Linked DNA regions of Homo sapiens: region 1 is linked to region 2. Evidence: fine-mapped expression QTL. Tissue or cell type: fibroblasts. Region 2 holds a variant in brackets; the other region holds the start of a gene. All regions are shown on one strand. Distances are from middle to middle.

Region 1 (8,175 bases), 38 kb before region 2:
TCAAAATAATAATAAAACAATAATCATCTTTTAAAAGTTAAGATTACAACAAATCTAGTTTACAGATCTTAACTTTTATTCATGATTCTAATTATTATTATTATTATTATTATTATTATTATTATTATTAGAGACGTGGTCTCACTTTGTCACCCAGGCTGGATTGCAGAGGTGAGATCACAGCTCACTGCAACCTTGAATTTCTGGGCTCAAGGGATCCTCCTTCTACCTCAGCCTCCCAAGTAGCTAAAACTACAGGCACATGCCACCATGCCTGGCTAATGTTTTATTTTTTGTAAAGATGAGGTCTCACTATGTTGCTCAGGCTGGTCTTGATCCTCTAGCCCCAGCCTCCCAAAGTGTTGGAATTCCAGGTGTGAGTCATCCTGGCCTACTAATGAGTCTAAAATTGGGAGTCCCTCAGAACCAGGACAGGTTCAAAGGGCTTCAGCCAGTAACACAGTCAGAGTGTTTATGGATGTAAAACAGAAGTAAGCTATAGAGCTTAATTGGTTACAGTGTTTGCTTTGTTTGAATCAGTTGGCCACCTAAGATCTACTAAAGCTCAGCTGCTATAACTGACAAAAACTCAGCTATTTGCTACATGTATATACTCTTAAGTTAATTAGTTTCATTTACCATGAATGACTCCATATTGGTTTGGTCTGTTGGACCCGGTACAGGGGTCTTGTCCCAATCAATGGCCTCCTGCAAATTTTATTTAACAGGCAGAAAAGGGGAGATGATAGAAAGATCTCTTCATCTGCCTGCTGCTTCTTAATTGCCTTAAGTTCAAAAATATTTACGTCAAAGAGGTATATTTTGGGGGGACATATTCTGGTTTCCTTCATGGGGATCAAAGAGAACAATATGTAAGGCACATCTTAGCGCTTGACAACTTGGCATGCCTCCATTCTCCCGGCAGCATCTTGCATAGTAAAAAGCATGATTTGAATTGCTGTCAGCAAATACATATTCAATGAAGAATTCCTTTGGAAGATGCAAAACCATTCGTCATCTGGCTGTTTCTTGAAACAAACTCTAAAGACCAGAGGGCAGCGTTGAAAGTGCAGCCTAGCAAAAGCATGGTTAAGGCCAGGTGTTAGGAAACCTTAGGACGGGCCGCTCCCTCAGGACAGGCTGCTCACTCGGCCGTCAGAGTTCCTTCTGAAACGTCCATTTGTCTTCTGGCTCTTGGCATCCTTGAAACAGGCTAGAGACCGCTGCTAAGGCTCAGTAATCTGAGCCTGGGGTAAGCAAGAGGCTGTGAGCCTCAGACACTCCACTAGAAAGGATATACTAGTGTGCATTCCTGGGGACAGGCCCAACGTTCCTTCCAAAAGGGACCTGTGGTCCTTCCTGGCTCCTCTGCAAGTGTCCACTGGAGAACACAGAATCTGCAGCCTGCATCTTAGAAAACCTGGACCAGGCCGGGCGCAGTGGCTTATGCCTGTAATCCCAGCACTTTGGGAGGCTGAGGCGGGCAGATCACCCGAGGCCTGAGTGTGAGACCAGCCTGGCCAACATGGTGAAACCTCGTCTCTACTAAAAAATACAAAAATTAACCAGCCATGGTGGCACGCATCTGCAGTCCCAGCTACTTGGGAGGCTGAGGCATGAGAGTCGCTTGAACCCGGGAGGCCAAGGTGGCAGTGAGCCAAGATCATGCCACTGCACTCCAGCCTGGGTGACAGAGCAAGACCCTGTCTCAACAAACAAACAAACAAACAAAAAAAGCAAAAACAAAAAAAACTGGAACAATTGAGCAAGCCACTCCATCTTACCCAAGCCCTCTCCCCTTTCCTGGCTGGAATAACGGCCTCTGGGCCTCTCTCTCGCTCTTTTTCTTTTTTTTTCAAAGCAGAATCTCACTCCATCACCCAGGCTGGAGTGCAGTGGCACAGTTATGGCTCACTGCAGTCTCAACCTCCAGGGCTCAGGTGATCCTCCCACCTCAGCCTCCCGAGAATCTGGAACTACAGGTGCACACCACTAAACCCGGCTAATTTTTTCTATTTTTTTGTAGAGACTGGGTTTTGCCATATCACCCAGGCTGGTCTCAAACTCCTGGCCTCAAGGGATCCTCCAGCCTCGTCCTCCCAAAGTGCTGGGACTACAGGCCTGAGCCATCATGCCTGGCCTGGGCCTCTGCTTATTGCAGCCTCTGGAGCCAGCACGGGGCCCAAGGTGGTCCTGAGAGGCCCAGGCATCTCTTGGGTAGAAAAAGTCCTTCTCTAAGCCTCAGATCCCTCATCTGTCCAAGGGACCAATAACAGCTGCTTTACTTCCCAGGCTGGATTGAAGAGGGTCCTTTAAGCCATTGTTTCACTAAGCAATTGACTGGCTCACCCTTCACCCTATCCTGGGAGGGCATGAAGCCACTGTTGTAATCTCAGGGGTGGGCTCACCCACCACCCCCATACTCTTGGTCCACCAAAGCCTGGAGGTCGCTGCTGTCAACCCAGGGCTGAGCAAGGAGGGACTTAGGCCCTGGGCTGTCTCCCCGAGCCTCTCAGTCATGCCTGCTGTAGGGGAGGAGAGAGTGGCCTCCCTCTACCCTCTAAATTCCTTGGCTGGGCTCCACATTAAATTTACATAAGGCAGATTAACAAGAGAAAAACCATGTGTAACTAAGACCTATGCATGGGAATCCCACAAAATACAAGACTGGATGAAGGCTCAGATGAATAAAGCTCATATAACATCCTACAAGGGACAGGAAACATTCCTTCAGAAAGGAATAGGGCTTGGGTCAGGTGTGGTGGTTCACGCCTGTAATCCCAGCACTTTGGGAGCCTGAGGCGGGTGGATCATGAGGTCAGGAGTTCAAGACCAGCCTGGTGAACATGGCGAAACCCCACCTCTACTAAAAATACAAAAATTAGCCAGGCACGGTGGTGTGCACCTATAGTCCCAGCTACTCAGGAGGCTGAGGCAGGAGAATTGCTTGAACCCAGGAGGCTGAGGCTGTGGTGAGCCAAGATCACGCCACTGCACTCCAGCCTGGGCAACAGAACAAGATTCCTCAAAATAAACAAAACAAAGAAACAAAACAACAAAAAACAAACAAAAAAACATGAAAATCAGCTGGGTGTCGTGGCGTGTGCCTGTAATCCCAGCTACTTGGGAGGCTGAGGTAGGAGAATTGCTTGAACCCAGGATGCAGAGATTGCAGTGAGCCGAGATGGCACCACTGCATTCCAGCCTGGACAACAGAGCAAGACTGTCTCAAAAAAAAGAAAAGAAAAAAGAAAAAGAAAGAAAAGAAAAGAAAAAAAGGAATAGAGGCTTGGGATCCTGGGGAGGTGGTACACAAGTTAAGGGAGAGTGAGGGGAGAGAGGGTAAGGTGAATGAAGCTTGTCTTCTTATGCGGATAAAATTTCTCAGGTAAGAAAAGTTAGCTCTGAGCAGCCCTCCGCCTGATACTAATACTTTACCAATGGAGATTTTCCTTTTCTTTTCTGTTTTTGAGACAGGGTCTCACTTTGTTTCCCAGGCTGGAGTGCAGTGGTGCCATCATGGATCACTGCAGCCTCCATTTCCCTGGCTCAAGCCATCCTCCCACCTCAGCCTCCCGAGTAGCTGGGACTACAAGGTGTGCACCACCACGACTGGCTAATTTTTAATTTTTTTGTAGAGACGGGGGTTTCCCTATGTTGCCCAGGCTGGCTTGAATTCCTGGGCTCAAGTGATCCTCCCGCCTCGGCCTCCCAAATTGCTGGGATTGCAGGAGTGAGCCACAGTGCCAGGCCTGGAGATTTTCTTTATAGATAGAAATCATTTTACAAAAGGACAGCTTTTCAGATCTACTCCTGTGCCTGCAGTTTCTAAGAATAATCCCTTCAAAATATGGCGAAGAAGTATATTTTGGGGTGGCACACGCTGGTCTCCCATAGTCACATTTTGGGTGTGTGTCCTGAGCCCCAACACTGGTCACCTCGCAATGGCGCTTGGGGTCCCTGGGTGCCTAGAGCTGCAGGTTACCCCCTCTTCTTCTCCTGCTCTCAGCCTTTCTCCCGCTCCTGCTGAAATTCTTTCCTGCGTGAAGGCGGAGCGCTTAAAGGCGCCTAGGACCTTTATTTCGTTGTTTTCCTTTGCATAAAAAGAAAACTTGTTTTGTAGAAGGGCAAGCAAGGTGCAGCTTCCAGAGGCACCTGGGATGATGCCCCTCTAGCGGTAGGCGAACTGGGGAGTGTGGGCGGCGGGGGAAGGCGAGGCCCTGGAGGACCTGTTGTTTTTCCTGTTGCAAGTGAAAAGGAAACAAAGTGGGAAGTGGAGTGTGCGGGTTGGCGGCAGGCGGGGCGCCCCGGCGCGCCCCGCCTCCCTCCCTCGAGGCTCACTCGCGCCCAGCGCAGTCGCTCCGAGCGGCCGCGAGCAGAGCCGCCCAGCCCTGCCAGCTGCGCCGGGACGGTAAGCGATCGCCGCTGGCTGCGTCAGGGGAGGTGGGAAGAGGACCGCGGCCAGGGGCTTTGGGAGCTGCGGCTGCGCTCGGGGGCGCGGGGCTGGCTGGCGGGCGTCTCTCCGGCACACACAGCCCGTGCGCCCTGGCCCTGGGCGCCTCCCCGAGTCTAGCGAGCCGGGTCCTGGGAGCCCCGGGGGCCGGGCTGCTGGGACCTGGGCGGGGGCTGCCCTAGAGGCCCGGGGCCGTCCCCCGTGGGCCCGCCGAGAGGGGCGTGCGCAGCTCCCCGGCGCCTGCACTGCGCGCCTTGCCCGCCTGGCCCGGCAGCGGGGTTTCAGCTGCGCTCACAGCGGCGGTGCGGCCTCCGGTGCGCCGGCTGAGGCGCGAGGATACTGGAAGCGCTCAGCGCGTGCGCCCGCTCCGAGCGCTGACTAGAGGACCAGGGGCCTCCTCTGTACGGCAGCGGGGTCCACAGAGAGCGCGCTGGTGATGTCGCCCGAGTGCCCTGGCGCGGAGAGAGGGCTGCGCACAGTTCGCCGGCGCCCGGGTCCTGTGCGCCCTTCCCAGCCTGGGCAAGTGGGGAGCGGGGCTGCAGAGGGGCCGGGGTGGAAGTTTTCGGGGCTTCCTCCCGGCTCGTGGACCCGCGCCCCGCCTCCCAGTCCCGGGCCTCCCGCGTTGCTCGCCGCGTTTGCTGCAGCGGCGCAGGCGAGATCAGCTCCGGATCTGCGGCCGAGCCGGGGTTACGCCGGCAAAACCGCCCCCAGCTTTGCATTTCCGGACTTTTTAAAAAAATACTCTTACCCGTAATTCAGCCTGAATGAGGCTTTTTAAAAAAATCGAGTTTCCTGTTTTTATTTAGGCTTCCTCATTTGCACCTCCTCCTTTGAGGTAGAGAAGAGGGGAACTGGGACGACCTTTCGTGGGCACCAGGATGGGGGCGTTGCAGGGCGGGGAGACGGGGGTCCAGAGAACCGGGGAAGGGCCGCTGGGAGGTCCCGAAAAGTGCGCTGTGGGTGGGGCGAGGGTGAAGCAGGTAGGGGCGAGATTTCCGGGGTCGCGGGTGGGGGGCGCCCTGGAGCGGCCAAGGTGCAGGGTCCTCGCGTGGCACCCTTGGGATCTGCCCAGTTTGCGGATGGAGCGCGGGGCTGATCGGGCAGGTCTCACTTGTGCAGGTGTTCCCTGGAAGGTGGGACCTGCAGATCTTGAACCCCACCAGACTCCATCAAGGGGGCTTCTTCCCGCCGATTCCTGAGAAGTCCTACCTCTGAGATGCTGGGCACAGCCGCACGTGGATGTGGGCGGGTGTGCCGTGGGTTGGAGTGGGAAGGGGCAATTATTCCTCTCTCAGGGCTCTCGGAGGGGAAGGTTTACTGCTCCCTAGGGACTTTGAAACCAAGGGCTAACCCCCTGCTCTCTTCCAGGAGAGTGGGATACCGCCCGGGTGCCTGACGGTGCCTTGGTGTTCTTGACAATTGAATGGTACCATCGGGACATTACTCCCCAAAGAACTGGTCGTTCTTACCTAGGTGATTTCAGCTGGACAACTGTAGGAGCTGAGTGGTGTTGTCTTCATTTTACAGTTAAGGAAACGAAGGCTCAGAAAAGTTAAATAACTCACCAACCCACACAGTTTACAAGTAGTTTCTCCAGGATCCCAGCTCTTTCCGACGCCAGCGCGTTTAATCATCTGGGGGTGCCGTTGCTTGCGGGGGAAGGAGAATGTCCTAGTAATTCTCTTGGGGGGGATTTGGAGGGGACGACTGTTCAGAGAGGCACCCTCTAAGATACCCTTGAGACTCCTCTGTAACACCCGCTGCTGCTGTTCACACCCCCTCCCCAATTTGATTGATGTGTTGAGTGGGGCGGAAGGTTCTTTTGGTTGATGAGGCTGCGACCAAACGCAAGGAGATATAAATAGAGCTTTCTCTTTGGCTCTCTCTAGAGCAGAAATGCCAACCCCTTAGCATTTCCATGGCCTGCTGGAGTTTCATTTCTTGATATTAGGATTCCAGCCATCTTGGCTGGTGAGAGGCCTGCTGGCGGCTTCCTGGGCTTGGTCCTCTTTTGGTGCTTTCACAGAATGATGGAAGACACTGGAGTGGGCTGGAGGAGTGCTCTTAAAACCCAGTTGTGGCTGAGAGCGGTAGCTCATACCTGTCATCCCAGTGCTTTGGGAGGCCCAGACGGGAGGATCACTTGAAGCCAGGAGTTCAAGGTTGCAGTAAGCTATTACAGTGCCACTGCGCTCCAGCCTGGGTGACAGAGCAAGAGCCCATCTCTGAGAAACATAATACAACAACCCAGTTGCCTGCTCCAGAGACAACTAAGCTAGCCTCCTTCTGAGCCCCACTTCCCCCGCCCTTCAGCCCCTGTTCAGAAACAGACTACATTGGCCACACTACTCACTTAGATGTTTCTGGAATTAGGGCACGTGCCCCAGAGGTACTCCCGACCACGCAGATGTCCCCTTCTGGCAGGAAAAGCGCGTTTCTGCGTTTCTGCAGCCTCAGTCCACGCCGCCAGGTCTTTGCACTAAGCTGTGGGCTCCGTTTCTCCTCCGATACCATGTTTAGCAAGTGTTTCCTGAGATCACACGGGGTGCCAGGGGCTGTGCTAAGAACAGGGCAGGCAGACTGGGAGGGCATCAGCCCCTGGGGGGCTTACAGGACAGACAGTCCACCAATGGTTGTGCGAAAGCCAGCCCGCTTTCGCACAACTGTCCGATGGAATTCATGGAGGTGGGAGTGGGGATGGTGAGAGTCGGTTCCTGCTTCATCTTGTTTTACTTAAATTGCACAGTGAAAGGGAGAAGTGAATGTGCAACGGATGAAGCAATTCCCCTTTGGCTGGGTTATTTTCAAAACCATTTTTGTGTAGAGAGCAGTTCCCGCCCTCCCTGAGGCCAGCTGCCGGTGTGGGCCTGATGGTGGGGTTTGGGGCCCCAGCAAATGTTTCCTTAACGTGGGACCTTCAGAAGGCTCTTTCAGGCTGGGCGCGGTGGCTCACGCCTGTAATTCCAGCACTTTGGGAGGCCGAGGTGGGCGGATCACTTGAGGTCAGGAGTTCAAGACCATCTTGGCCAACATGGTGAATATCTGTCTCTACGAAAAATGCAAAAAAAAAAAATTAGCTGGGCGTGGTGATGAGCACCTGTAATCCCAGCTACTTGGGAGGTGGAGGCAGGAGAATCGCTTCAATCCGGGAGGTGGAGGTTGCAGTGTGCTGAGATTGTGCCACTGCACTCCAGCCTGGGCAACAGAGTGAGACTACATTTCAAAAAAAAAAAAAAGAAAAAAAAGCTCTTTCAGCCAGGAGGGTGGCTTCAGCTACTCCCCAGGGGACAAGTGTGTTTTTCAGCAAAGCTGTTAGAGAAGATGGTCTAGAAGCAGTACCCCGGGATGGAGGAGACAAGGAAGGGCCCTATCCACTGGAGGATGGCAGAGCCTGGCTTGTTTGAAAGGGAGGAAAATATTGTCATCTTGGTACCGGTGACAGTGTTTCATAAATAGCGAAGGTGGCAAAACGCCACCTCTCTCCCTACAGTTAACGCTAAGACTGAGTTGTCTTTAGTTTGGTTGGTGGAAATCCCCGGCAATCATAGCAGAAATGCTGCCAGTTTCAAGATGGAAAAAATAAAAAACCCAGGAACCCCCCGCCCCCCCCCCTTTTTTATTGCAGCTAAACACTGTGACTTGCTGTGGGTCCTACCAAAATAACGGCCATTCTCCCCTCCCTGAGGGCCAGCACAGTCCCTAGGGCCTGTGAAAGTTCCCCT
Region 2 (8,175 bases):
GATCCTCCTGCCTCAGCCTGTGAGTAGCTGCAACTACAGGCGCCCTCAGTCGTGCCTGGCTTTGCCTCTGATTTTTTTCTGACTTTAGCCTTCCTGGTCTTGTCCCCACTCAGCAGTGGTGTCTTACCTGACCACACCTAGAAATGCTGAATGCCAATTTGAGTTAGAAAGAGAATAGCAGAATTCCAGCCAGGTTGGAGGCTAGGATATTGGTGAGCATTTGGGAGAAGCTGAGATTTCATCACAGCAAAAGTGTGATGAAATCACACATCACAAAGTGTCAGGAGAGGGAGAAGTGACTGATGCAGCAAATACTCTTCCATCTTCTAGGGCTCCTTGAAGGGAACAAGGGCTCCAATGAGTGGGAGCAGAGGCTCATTTGGTTTCCTGCCTTATGTTTTGGGATTTAACAAGAGGATTGGCCCTTTTAGTAGCAAGTAGAGGAGCAGGAATCTAATTTCTTGGCTCCATCATAGCTCACCGCAGACTTCTGGGCCAAGCAATCCTTCTCCCTTGGCCTCCTAAGTAGCTAGGACTACAGGCAAATGCCACCATGCCAGGCTAATTTTCTTTTTTTTTTTTTTTTAGTAGAGACGAGGTCTCACTGTTTTGCCCAGGTTGTTCTTAAACTCCTGGCCTTAAATGATCCTCCCACCTCGGCCTCGCAAAGTGCTGAGATTACAGGCGTGAGCCACCGTGCCCGCCTTAATTTACTCTGATTTTTCTTTTCTTTTTAAAATAGAGACGGGGGTCTCACTGTGTGGCCCAGGCTGGTCTTGAACTCCTGGGCTCAAGTGATCCTCCTGCCCTGGCCTCCCAAAGTGCTGGGACTACAGGCGTGAGCCACTGTGCCAGGTCTACTCTGATATTTAACAGTGGTAAAATTCATTTATCCACTAAATGACTTTATTTATACTCTCACTTAATTTCAGAAAGGACTGAAGGTACCTGAGCTGTGAACAAAGAATCAGAGACTGGTTTTTCCTCCATCTCTGCCACTAACTAGTTGTGCCACCTGGGGCAAGTCACTTGGTCTCCTTGTGTCTGTTATCCATGTGTGAGAGCCAATACTTAATATGAGTGCCAGGCACTGTTCTAGAGATTTTCCATGCATCTGTATTCACTCTTTTAATTCTTCTCTACACAATTTATTAAGGTCTCTATCTTTTTAGAGTTTGTCAGGGCAGTTCCAGTTCATCGTGGCAATACAAGAAAGTCACTTTTGGGGGCTTTTGCCATTTCAAAGAATCTTGGATTTTTCTCTGGGCTCCAGAGACACCCGTGCCTGACACCCCCAATTTGAACCCCCAGCGGATCATTGGGTTCCATTGCTGATGGGGACCTTGTGTTTGAGCTTGACTTTCCCTCCATCCATGCTGGAGATAAACGGAAGTCTTCGCGCAGGGGGACGATTGCAGGACGGGGCCGCTAGGGAGGAGGGCTCCCACACGTGGGGAATGGGGGTGGAGGAACCGCTGAAGCTCGTCTGCCCTTTGGAAAATCTCGTTGGTGTCCTAGCCCTGGGATCATTGTACTTACCAGGTTGGGGGGCTCTGCACCCAGAACTCCTCCCAGCCTCTGTCTGCCCGTCCAAGGTCCGGCGTGACTTCCGGTGGCTGATTTCTCATCTTGGGGAAATCCCCGCCCTGGGGGGGTCCGGTGTGGCCTGCAGGGAGCCTGACTCACCCGTCGGCTGAGTCAGGGGGTCCCAGCTGCCCTCGGATGTCTGCTGCACCGCTCCCCTCCCTCAGGCGGGGGACGGCAGGAAGGAGGGAGAGATGGGAGGGCGTGGGGGCGGGGCCGGGGGCGGTCTCCAGCCCCCGGCCCGGGCTCCGCCCTCTCCCGGGATCTGTGAAAGCACAGCCAGGGTGCGGGCGGGTGAGTGCCCACCTGGTGCAGGGTGTGAAGAGCGAGAGCGCGTGTATGAGCACGAGCGTCTGTGGTCTCTGTGTGTCCGTTTACATGATTGCGCCTGTGTCTGTGTGTGCGCATCTGCATGCGTGTCTTTTTGAGTGAATGTCTGTGTGTGACTTCTAGGGACGGCCAGGGAAGAGGAGTGTCCCCTCCCACCCTGGCCCCCCGTCTTCTCATCCTGGACTCCCTCTCTTCTCTCTCCTCCTTGGGGGGTGCTCTGGGCATCCGGGACCCCTGGCAAGGCTGCCGGGTGCTGGGAGGACGCAGAGGCCGCCGAGGGCGGAGGGAAGCGTCAGGCCTGGCTGCGCGCGCCCTGGCTAGGGAGCTCCGAGTCCCGGCCGCCTGGTCCTTTCATTCTGGGCTTCTTCGAGATTCTCGAGGGCTTCCAGCCGGCAGTGTTTTCTCCTTGCCGTCTTCTCAGGCACGAGGAAGGCTCCTGGAGCTCATCTGCCTGGGATGGGCGGCCCTGCCTTGACCTCACGTGCAGCAATTAGGACCACCAAGGAGTGTTCTTCAAACCACCTTCTACCACCCCGCGGGACACGCCAGGGCTGATTCTGGTGCTCGCACCCCGCTTCCTCCTCTGCGTTCCCCTGTGGCAAAGGTTTGTCTTGGGCTGTGGACCCGAAAGAATATTCTAAGGGGAGATGGGCTCTTGCAGAGCAAGAGGGGTATGGTTTCAGCACCAAACTAAACTGGTGCCAGCGCTAGCTCTGCCCAAGAGGCTGTGCAGACAGTGTTTGTGTGAGTACGTGAGGGTGAGAGTCCCTGCCCGCCTAGCTTCGGCTTCCCCACTTACAACCAAGGGAGAACAACATCTATCTTACAGTGTAGATGCCTGGATAAAAACTGGAGCGCCTGGCCGAGCACTTTGGGAGGCTGACGCGGTAGGATGGCTTGAGCCCAGGAGTTCGAGACCAGCGTAGGCAACATAGTTAGACCCCCGCCTCTACAAAAAATTTTAAAAAATTAGCTGAGTGAGGTGGTGCGCACTTGAGGTCTCAGCTACACGGGAGGCTGGGGTGAGAGGATCGATTGAGCCAGAGAGGTAGAGGCTACAGTGAGCTATGATCGCACCACTGCACCCCAGCCAGGGCAACAGAGCAAGACCCTGTCTCAAAAACAAAAACACTGGAGCGCCCAGAGTTTTTTTTAAGTGCGGGACAAGGATTGTCTCGGTGTTGTTACTGCACGCACACCGCCCGTTGTAATGGATAGATGCATTAGTGAAAGTGCTAGGTACACTCATTTATTTTCTAAATCTCACATATAAGGGAACCCCCGATGGAAAGGCCCATCAGCTAGGGAACAGCCAGCAGGCTGGATTTGAGCCCAGAGCCCGGGCTGGCCAATTACTCGAGTGAGTCTGGCTCCGGCTCTGTGACCTGGGTCCAGTACCCCGCCCTTTCTGCGGATGCCTTGCAAAGCGGGGAGCGGAAAGCAGTTTGGTGGACGACCAGCCCTCCCTTGCTTTGCAGGTGGCGCTTTCTATTTATTGATTGTAAGGTGAAACCTAGGCCAGAGCCAGCGTGCGCGCGCCGTCGGGGTCCCGCGGCTGCTCTGGGGCTCAGGGTGCGAACCCCAAGGGCCCCGCCTGGCAGCGTCCTGGGCCTCCGGGCGAGAACAGCGGGGGTCGGGGAGGATTTGCAGCGTCCACTCCTCTCTCCGCCGCCCGTGTGAGCTCGGGCGCTTCTCCCGGCTGGGGGTGTGAGAATTTGCCGACGGTGCCCGCGCCGCCGCCGGCCCCGGCCCCGCCCCAGCCCCGAGGACGCCCCGCCCCCAGCCGGCGCCCCGCCCCGCCTGCCAGTAGTCCCAGCCCCGCCCCGGGCCGCGCCCCTCCGCCGAGCCCCGCTTGCCTGCACCTCGCGCGGCGGGCCTGCCCTCCGGCCCCCGCCGGCCCCGCGCCGCTGCCCGGAGGCTGGCGTCTTCCCGTCACTCCGGGACCCGCCCGCTGTGTCCCCTGGGCAACTGTCTCCAGGGAGATCGGGCCCCGCCCCCGGCAGCGACACCCGGTACGGAGCCCACCTGTGCGGGCGTCTGCGGGGTCCCCGTGCCCCGCCCCCAGCCCCGCCGGGCGTCCCACCCCGCCCAGCCCCGGGCTTTGTCCGCCTGGGGCGGGGTGGGCAGGGTCGGTGGAGGCGATCAGGGGTCCGGGGCCGTGGGGGCT[T/G]GGGGGGCCGAGGCAGGGGGTTGCGTTCGCGGTGGGATTCTCAGCTATGGGCCGCGCGACGCTCTCCTCTCCTAATCTGGTTGCTTCCTTTTGTGCCCCCCGGGGGTCAGGAATCCCAGGTTTCTCCGCTGCCGCCCTTGATGGGATCCGTGAGGCCTCCAGCGGGCTTCGCACGAGGACGCGCCTGTTCGGGGCAGGCTGTTTACTTGTCGGGGACCCAGCAGTGGCTGTGCGCGTCCTCCCCTCCCCCTGCCCCCTATTCGGGACGGAGCCTCCTGCGCTCTGTCCCTCCCGAGCTGTGCCCTTGAGCCCAAGGGGGCTAGAGGGTGGCAGACCCAGATCCTGAGGTCCTGCGGCTTCCTCCCCGGGGGAGCGCCTTCTCCCTGGCCGCCCTCTTGTGGATTTTGTCCTGGCTCCTTATTTCCTGACCCGAATTCCTGAGGATGAATTCTCTCCTTCTCTTCCTTCTCGGCTCCCTCTGCTTTTGGCTTTGTTTTTCCTGTTTTGAAAGGGCTTTCCTTATGATCCTGTCTCATTTCCCTGTGCCAGAGCTACTATAATTTGTCGTGGTAACGGGTATTGGCCAGTCACTTAATTGGTCAGCAATGGAAGGGATTTCTTCCTTAGCCTTTGGTGCTGACCTCCTGTTTCTCTGGTGGCAGTGCCTTGCGAAGTGCTTGCCACTGTCCCCTGGATTTTGAGGGAAGGGAGCATCCGAGCCCGCATGCCTGGGCTCCCGCAGCAGGGTCCCCGGAGCATCTTTGCAGGGATAGAGGCCGCAGGGAGGACTCCAGCTTGGTCCTTGGGAGATGTGTTCCTGCAACCCATGCCTTTTCCAGCGGGTTCCTAGGGCTCTGCTGTTTGACTCATGGAGAAGCCGGTGGTTTTGGTGTTGTGCTAAATCGAAGCCCACCTAGTGGGCTCTGGGCCGAAGGCTCCCAGCTGTGGAGGTAGCTATGCCCAGGGCCTGGGGTTGGGAGAAGGGGTTGGGTCTTTAGACTGGGCTGGAGCTCTAGTGTCTTTTTTCCCTCTTTGGGGTTCTGTTATTTCCTGGAGCGGCTGAGGTGGGGGAAGAAGCACCACAGATGCAAGGAGTGGGCGGCCCCTCCCCTCACACTCTTCCTTTTTATCTCCAGCCCAATAGGGCATGAATTTTCCTTTAGACCTGGGCCTTGAAAACAGATCCACATGGGGAATAAAGATTTCAAGTTCACCAACCTGCTTTTTGCATCCATCGAATGGAACTCGAACCCAGGCTTGGCTCAGATCAATTACTTTGCTTTCAAAAAACCAAACAAAACCAACAAACAGCTCTAAAAACGATCTGAGTCATCTGAGTGCACATTCCTGCTCCAGGCACTGGAAATGCTCCTGTGGTTGGTTTCAGTACCACCAAAGGGAGCTGGGGGTGGCATTGACGCAGATGGCAAGAAAGGCCGATCAAGTGGAATGTGATTGGTTTGCAAAAAGGAGAGACCTAGATGAAGCAGTTGATTTTGAGCTAACGTCCTGTAAGAGAATGCACAGGTTTCTGAAATTCTCTCTTGTTAAAATAGTTTTCTTTCTTTCTTTCTTTCTTTTCCCCAACAGATAAGGAGTCAGGCCAGGGCGGGATGACACTCATTGATTCTAAAGCATCTTTAATCTGCCAGGCGGAGGGGGCTTTGCTGGTCTTTCTTGGACTATTCCAGAGAGGTAGGTTGGGGGAACGGGCCAAGTGTGTGGGGGAAGGGAAAGGAGATGTTATTTTGTAGATAGGTTAAGAATGTGAACAAACCCATCCTCCCCGACTCTCCAGCCAAAGGAAGACTTCTCTGTAGGACTAGCACACCCAGAGGAAGAGAGTGACCCAAATTGGTGCTAGGAGCGAATGAATGGGGAAGTGAACTAGACCTCAGCCATTCCCAGGAGAGAGATGCTGCTGCCTGGGAAAAGAAGGAATGGCTTTGCTTTGAGGAGTCCTGGAGCCCATTACTAAGCTGCAGCATTTGGTATTTGACTCACACTGGCCACGGTAGCGTTGGACTCGCCTGACTGGGGAGAGAAATATTAAAAGTTTTCTGGAGGAAATGGATTGAATTTTTATAATTCAGTGTTGCTTCTCAAGGAGTCCCTAGGTGGGGCCGTTCTGTGTCTTCAGAGAGCTGGCAGTCACTGTCTCAGTAAGAGGATGCTCTTCAGAGTTTCTAGGACATTAGCTTAGAAGATGAATGCAGTCCTTTCATGGTGCAAATGAGGACACTGAGGCCAGAGACCGACACTGGCTGGACGTTGGCTACCACACCCATCTGGGGGCCTGGAATAGCTGGGTCTGGCTTGGGAGCTCCATGACTGCGAGACCTGCCGGTCCCCTTGCAAGCTCTCTGGGTGCATAACATATTCTGTGTGTACCCAGAATTCCACTGGAGACGCTACTGTCATTTCAGGATGGAAAGGGGCAGGGGTTAGAGCGCGGTGGCGTCCTTAAAGGCTTTTTCCCCAACCTCAGCCTCATTTTCTCTAGATCTTCATTGGTACTTTCCAAACTTGTTTGATGATTGCGGATCTCTTTTTAAAAATCAAAATATAGGCCGGGTGCCGTGGCTCATGCCTGTAATCCTAGCACTTTGGGAGGCCAAGGTGGGCGAATCACGAGGTCAGGAGTTCGAGACCAGCCTGGCCAACCAACATGGTGAAACCCTGTCTCTACTAAAAATACAAAAAATTAGCTGGGCGTAGTGGTGGGCACCTGTAATCCCAGCTACTCGAGAGGCTGAGGCAGGAGAATCACTTGAACCCAGGAGGCGGAGGTTGCAGTGAGCCGAGATCACACCACTGCACTCCAGCCTGGGTGACAGAGTGAGACTCCGTCTCAAAAAAATAAATAAATAAAATAAATCAAAATATAAAGCAGAATTTTAACCTATAAACCAGATCAAAACAGCCACTGTAAGAGAAACTAGCCCAGAACTCCTTCTGCTCAGCACCCTGTCCCACTCCCACCTACCTCTGAAGGCCTGGGGTGCTTCTTTGGAACCCCAGCGCTCCCCTGCACATAAGCAAAAGCCATAGATCATGTAGACCCCTGTTGGAGGATTAGAATTTCTTCCACACATCTATTTATACTGACTTGATCTTTGTCTCAGAAAATGCCTTTTAATAATATTTTTAATCCTCATGCTTTTTTATTTATAAAAATAGGAAATTAGTGTCAAGTTTGGAAAATACCAAAAACATACAAGCATACTCGTCTATCATCTTACCGCCACCCCACCCCGCACCAGAGAAAACCACTGTTTCCTCGTTGGAGTATCCTCCCCCAAACCCCTCAGAGAGAATTCTGTCTGTAGCTTTTATTTATTATTTATTTATTTACTTAATTTTTTTGAGATGGAGTCTTGCTCTGTCACCCAGGCTGGAGTGCAGTGATGCAATCTCAGCTCACTGCCACCTCCGCCTCCCGGGTTCAAGCGATTCTTCTGCCTCAGCCTCCCAAGTAGCTGGGACTACAGGTGTGCGCCACCATGCCCAGCTAATTTTTGTGGTTTTTTTTTTTCAGTAGAGACATGGTTTTGCCATGTTGGCCAGGCTGGTCTCGAACTCCTGACCTCAAGGGATCCACCTGCCTCAGCCTCCCAAAGAGCTGGGATTACAGGCGTCAGCCTCCACGCCCTGACCTGTGTCTGCACCTTTTAAAACTTGACTTTTATTTATTAGTAAGTATTATTATAGACTTTGACATAAACATAACAATCGAACATATATGTATTTCTCTGCTCTGTTTCAAAATCCCACTAAAATGAAAGTAAAGGAATAAGAAAAAATGTAAATTCTTAAAAAAAAAAAACTAGAAAAGTAAATGGTTGAGGAGGGTGGTATGAACAAAACCTTTGCAGGACAGGAAACCGATAGGCGAGAGGGAAGCTGAGTGGAGAATGTCCAATGTCTTGGGCCATGGGGGAGGCAGGTGGAAAAGGCAAAGGAATGGGGGCTCTGGGGATGGAGTGCTTCGAAAGGTGGTGTGTGCAGGGTGGGCTGGAAGCAGGAAGATTACTTGAAAGAGCATGGTAGGGTGACAGACCACCCCCCCAGGCCACATAGCCAGATGGTTCCCT

Alleles and levels. Positions count from the first base shown, and alleles are read on the strand shown. Sizes are in standard deviations (SD) of each study's normalised expression.
For the expression in fibroblasts of the gene that starts at base 4,340 in region 1, allele G in region 2 goes with a higher level than allele T (small effect, 0.18 SD a copy in GTEx).

What was found. PIP is the estimated chance that this variant, and not a neighbour inherited with it, causes the effect.
Region 1: it holds the start of PIK3CD, and the variant in region 2 is fine-mapped to the expression of PIK3CD in fibroblasts (GTEx, PIP above 0.99). The same link has a PIP of 0.9 or more in sigmoid colon.

Annotation. Positions count from the first base shown.
Region 1 is chr1:9,647,392-9,655,566 of GRCh38, forward strand. PIK3CD (phosphatidylinositol-4,5-bisphosphate 3-kinase catalytic subunit delta) reads left to right here and starts at 4,340. Exons shown (of 24, transcript NM_005026.5): 1 at 4,340-4,411. It overlaps PIK3CD-AS1 (PIK3CD antisense RNA 1), which reads right to left and starts at 7,195. Exons shown (of 2, transcript NR_027045.1): 1 at 6,807-7,195; 2 at 5,219-6,652. RefSeq lists a silencer at 4,253-5,142 and enhancers at 5,323-5,392, 6,533-6,582.
Region 2 is chr1:9,685,796-9,693,970 of GRCh38, forward strand. It overlaps PIK3CD (phosphatidylinositol-4,5-bisphosphate 3-kinase catalytic subunit delta), which reads left to right. Exons shown (of 24, transcript NM_005026.5): 2 at 5,672-5,776. It overlaps PIK3CD-AS2 (PIK3CD antisense RNA 2), which reads right to left and starts at 1,779. Exons shown (of 2, transcript NR_126367.1): 1 at 1,540-1,779. RefSeq lists enhancers at 1,534-1,703, 3,824-4,507, 4,508-5,189 and silencers at 1,754-1,893, 2,219-2,413, 3,420-3,979. The variant T/G (reference allele first, on the strand shown) is at 4,082.